2 separate regions of the Homo sapiens genome follow, and region 1 is linked to region 2. Evidence: fine-mapped expression QTL. A gene starts in region 2. The other region holds a variant in brackets. All regions are shown on one strand. Distances are between the middles of the regions.

What was found. PIP is the estimated chance that this variant, and not a neighbour inherited with it, causes the effect.
Region 1: its variant is fine-mapped to the expression of ZNF883 in whole blood (TOPMed, PIP 0.93).

The regions. Positions count from the first base shown.
Region 1 is chr9:113,054,029-113,056,849 of GRCh38, reverse strand. ZFP37 (ZFP37 zinc finger protein) reads left to right here and starts at 126. Exons shown (of 4, transcript NM_003408.3): 1 at 126-293. The coding sequence starts at 162. RefSeq lists an enhancer at 1-495. The variant C/T (reference allele first, on the strand shown) is at 1,680.
Region 2 is chr9:113,010,516-113,013,336 of GRCh38, reverse strand. It overlaps ZNF883 (zinc finger protein 883), which reads left to right and starts at 1,145. Exons shown (of 5, transcript NM_001101338.2): 1 at 1,145-1,187; 2 at 2,110-2,196.

The sequences.
Region 1 (2,821 bases), 44 kb before region 2:
CCTCGCCAGCTTCCACCTCCCGATCTAATTGTCCCAGAAGTCCCCGCACTTCCGCTGTACGGCTGAGTGTTTGCCAAGATGGCCGCGCCCGTGCGCTATTACCGAAGGGCGCCGCCATCGCGGCTGCCGGACCCGCTAAGGCCGCCCTCCGGGTAGCCGCCATGTCGGTCTCCAGCGGCGTCCAGATTCTGACAAAGCCAGAGACCGTGGACCGGAGGAGAAGTGCGGAAACGACCAAAGAGGCCGGGCGACCACTGGAGATGGCTGTGTCCGAGCCCGAGGCCAGCGCCGCGGTGAGAGCTGTGATGAGACAGGGTGTTTTGGCGGTCAGAGATGGTGTACTTGCGGGGCAGTGATTGGAGTAGTCTGTGACGATAGGTGATTTGGGAATTGGTGGAATCGATGCTAGATGGTCTTTTGGGAGGTCGGTGTTCTGAGTTATCTGTGGGGTTAATGATTTGGCTTTAGGATATCAGTATTAGGAGGGATCTGCAGAGACAATGATGGGGAGGCGTCTGTGGCAGTCACCGAGTGTCGGAGTTTGGAAGGAGATCAGAAATGGAGGCTTTGTGATGTGTCAGAGATAGGGAAGGACCGTGGGGGTTGGCGGTTTGGGATGTCTATGGGAGCCAGCGATTATGGGTGCCTGTGGTGGTTAGAGCCTGGGTTATCAAAGAGGGTCAGTGTTAGGATTTGGGAAATTCAGTGATTGGGAGCATCTGGGAGCATCAGAGATTGGGGCTTGGGAGTCAGTGACGGTGATGTCTGTGGAAGTTTGATTAGCAGTATCTTTGAGGGTCAGTGGGTAATGGAGGAATCGGGGGGCCAGTGAGGGGGGAATATGACTGTTGGAGTTTGGGGAGTCAATGTTGAGGTGTCTCTGGGGATGGTAGATGATTTGTATGTCATCTGGGGAGAAAAGGTAATTGGGGATGTATGCAGGTCAATAATTAGGTGGTGTCTAGCAGTAATAACTGTGCTTTGAGTAATGAGGTGATTAGTAGGAATTAATGATTGAAGATCCTCTATGATTCTGTGACTAGAAGTCTAAGGGGGTCAGGAGTTTGAGGGGATTGCTGCATTTAATGATTGAGGGTTCTTTGGTGGTCAGTGATTGGAGATCTGTGGAGGTTAATGATTGTTCTGTGGAGAGTGATAGTTGGGAACTTGCAGAGATCCATAATTGGGAGAAGTTTGTGAAGGTTAGTGATTGGGGAGTATTTGGGTGTCAGTGATTGAAAACTTGCAGGAACAGTAGGAACAGTCTGTAAGATGAGCATTTATTTTATGCCAGGGGGTATTTTTTATTTTATTTGTTTGGTGTTGTTGTTTTGCAGTCCCTGCTTTGTCCTCAAAACCAGGGAATGTTTTAAATGCTGGAGACACACCAGGAAACAAAACCAGAATCCCTCCCTCAATGACTTACATTATAGAAATATGAAAGATATCATAAAATATAAACAAATAAAATTATTCCAGACACTAATAAGTGCTGAAGTAAGTAAAAGAGGATGGTGTGGTACAGAGTGATTGAGGGTAGGGAGTGCATGACTTTAGCCAGGTTAGTCATGGAAAGCTTTCCTTAGCAAATGACAGTTGGGTTGAGGCATAAATCATCACAAGGAGGCAGCCATGCAGAGATCTGAAGAAAGAGTGTTTCAGGAAGAAATAAACATCAA[C/T]TGCAAAGGACCTGGGGTAGGAGTAAACTTGGTGTGCTTAAAAAAGAGAAGGAAGATTAGTGCTGTTGGAGCACAGTCAGAGGGAAAGTAGAAAGCTGTGAATCATAGTGGTAGGAAGGTATCAGATAATGTAGGATTTTATTGGCTAGTGTAAGGATTTGGATTTTATTCTAGATGCAGTGAGAAGCCATTGAGTTTAAGCAGGGGAATGATCTGTTCTGACTGACACCTTGAAAAGATCACCATGGCTACCTCATGGAAGACGGACTGCAGAGGGGCAAGAGTAGGTAGATATAGGGAGGTCAGTTAGGAACTTTTTGCAATAGTCAAAGACAAGAGATTATGGTGATTTAGAATAGAGTTGTAGCAGCAAAATGAAATCAAATTCAGAATACATCTGGAGATAAGCAATAGAACTTACTAATGTATTGATATATGGAGTATGAGGAAAGAGAAGAATCGAGATTTACATCTAGACTTTTAACCTGAAGAACCGGATGGATGGTGATTCTATTTTCTGAATGGAAAGGGTTATGGTGGAAAAGACTAGATTTGGTGGATGGAAATGGGATCTGGGGTGATGTCAGTGGCTCTATTTTGGCCGTGTCAAAATGCTCATTGCACATCTACCTAGAGATATTGGGTAGCCACTATATATATGAATCTGGAACTTAGGAAAGGGGTGAGCTAGGGAACCATTTTTGAAATGCATCACAATAAAGATGGTATTTAAAGCCTTAAGATTGGCTCGGGTCACCTAGGAAGAGAAGACAGATAGGGAAGAGAAGAGAGCCAGGGACAGAGGGCTGGGTCACTCTGACATTTAAAAGTCTGGTAGAAGACAAAAAACAACAGAGAGAATAAGGGGTGCCCATTGAAGTAAGAGGAAAACTGTGCAAGTGGGTGTCAAAGTAGCATAGAGAAGAAAGCCTTTCAAGACAATAGAAGTAATCAATTGTCATATATGCTTTTGAGTCCTAAAAGCAGGACTAGAGATCATTTGATTTTGTCAGTATGTAGCTCAATGGTTATTTTGATTGATTAGAACTCTTTTATTGGAGTTAAGGGGATAATATCCTGTTAGAGTGAGTTGAAAGAATGAGAGGTAATGAAGTGGAAACAGCAAGTATAGGCAACAGTTA
Region 2 (2,821 bases):
AAGTAAAGAGGGTAGATCTCACATTAAGTGTTCTTACCACAAAAGGTGGGGGAAGCCCAAAGGGGTGGAAACTTTTGGAAGTGATAGATGAATTTATGGGATTGATGGCATGATGGCTTAATGGTTTCACAGGTATATATACTTACCTCCAAACACATCAAGTTGTGTATATTAACTGTGTACAGTTATATCAATCATAGCTCAATAAAGCAATTTTTTAAAGTATGTATAGTTTTATACTTGAGAATATCTAATTATACAGAATTTGTATATATATGCATAGAAATTACATATTTAAATATATAATAGGGAGTATCTTGGAGTGAACTTTTATCTGACTAATTTTGTTCTTTTTCCTTACCTCTATTCTCTGTTATCTACAATCTGTCTATCTATCTATATTCGTTTGTTTAAGAAAAAAGTTAGATATACATATTCCCTCTTCATTATATTCGTTTTTCGGACGTTTTTGTCAAGAACAGATGTGGAGGAGTGAACAGATTACTCTACAAGGATGTTCATCAGTATACTATTTTTGGTAGCACTGAAGGGATCATAACCTAAGTTCCTAACAGGAAGAAAAAAGCTAGAAAAAAATCTACCCCAAAAGTATGACCTCATTCTTGGATGGAATCTCTCTGGTGCTTGCTCGCTGTCTCTCTCTCTGCCCCCTGTCTCTGCCCGCCCCGCCCCCCCGCCACCGTCCCCTCAACACACACTCATAACAAAGAAGCTAGCTATAAATCAGAGATTTACTTTTAGAATGCTAAAAAATATTAATCACTGCGTTAATAAATATTTCTGCAATGAATCCATCTGGGTAGTTTGGTTTTTTATCTGTTGAATAAAGAGTTATTTATAAATCATCTATTAATGTAGTGAATAGGTATTACTTTTGTGTCTGGGGTGTTGTTAACGCAAACTTTGCATCTCTTTGGATTTACAGTTGTTTATAGCAAAAGAAAAAATCTTTTCCTTTTTTCTTCTTTTCATGTAAACAACGATGGAAACGACGCACGTTCGCAACCCGCAAAGCATTAGAAAGACACCGGTGAAAGACGCAGCTCAAGAGGGCGCTTTGCAGAAGATGCTGGGAAATGTAGTTCCTGGCGGCCGCGTGCGCAGGCGTACTTCCTGGCTTGGGAACCACATCGCCCGACCGTGCTCTTTATTTTTCGGTGGAGCAGGTGAGCTTTTTCTTTCCCGACCCTTGCACTCGTGTGGGAGGTGGGGAGAGAGGTCCCCTTCAAACACAACCATTCGGGCGGGTCGGGAGAGGCCTGAGAATGCATTGGCCGGGCCCGGGGGCGGAGGAAAGCCGATTAGGTCAGGCTGGGTATTTGGTTCACGTTGCAGTGGAGGGGTGGTGGTGACCTGGGCCAGCATCCCGCTTCAGGGTGAGGAGGAGGCAAAGCCGTGTCTGCTCATCCCAGCCTTAACAGTCAGGGGCTTGGGTTCTCTTCTGGGTTGGAGAGTCATGAGAACAGAGCTCAGAGCTTTTGGGCCTTGCTTTGACTGTGATGGGGGGCAGTTTATCTGGGGAGGGGCAACCACCCCAGACCTTGGTGGTAGGTAGACCTGGGAATTGCAAGAAAACCGTGATATACGTATTTAGTGCCAACTAGAATTTAGGTTTCCCGACATCCAGTTCTTGCTCTTTCCTCAGAAACTCACCTCCTCTCTAGAGATAGCTTGTTTCGTTTTACTGGTAAATTTCTGAAGTCTCTTCTATAAAGAACTGTGGAATTGATTCCCTACACTCTGCGGGCGACGAAGAGCAATTGTTTGTTCTTTGAGATGGCATTTGTGAATGCACTTCGAAAAATTGTATATGCTTTACAAGTATTGTTAACAAACAAAGAGGGAGCTGGTGCACTCGGTGCCACCCATCATGGGAGGATAAAGTTAGCCCTGTTTCTGGTTTGTCAGATTGGACCAGTGACCAGAGAGAGGAATGTAAGTGGCCTTTCACTTTGTACTCTGCAGGGAAAGAATCTGTTCCTAGATTCATTCTGACATTTTTACAGAGGGTGTGGGTTATATCCAGGTAGTCAGACAGGCTTCTCATAAAGACAGTCCTGATTTCTCAGGGCCCCTTTCCTTTTTCAGCTCTGCTTTCTCAGGTCTCTACTTACTTATATAAGATGGCATCAAGAAGAAGGACCTGACCACTGGCCCCTGACTACATGGTCTTTGGTGAGCAAAACTTTTCAAGGCATTTGTACCTTAAGCTGGGTTTAATTTCTAAAGTTCCATCTTGCAGTGTGGAAAAATCATATGCAATTAAACGTCCCTTGATAATCTCTTTTATTGCTCATTATTTGCTCTCAATTTTTTTTTTTTTTTTTTTTTGAGACAAGGTCTCGTCCAGTTGCCCAGGCTGGAGTGCAGTGCACGATCTTGGCTCACTGCAACCTCTGCCTCCTGGGTTCAAGCGATTCTTCTGCCTCAGCCTCCTGAGTAGCTGGAATTACAGGCGTGCACCACCACGCCCGGCTAATTTTTGTATTTTTAGTAGAGATGGGGTTTCACCATGTTGGGCATCCTGGTCTCAAACTCCTGACCTCGTGATCTGCCCACCTCAGCCTCCCAAAGTGCTGGGATTACAGGTGTGAGTCACCGTGCCCGGCCTAATTTTTCTTTATAACTGACAAATAAAAATTTTATATATTCATCATGTGTAACATGTTGTTTTGAAATATGTATACGTAGTAGAATGGCTAAATCAAGCTAATGAACATGCATCACCTCACGTACTTTTCATTTTTTGTGGTGAGAGCACTTAAACTGCTCTCATAGCAATTTTCAAGAATACATTGTT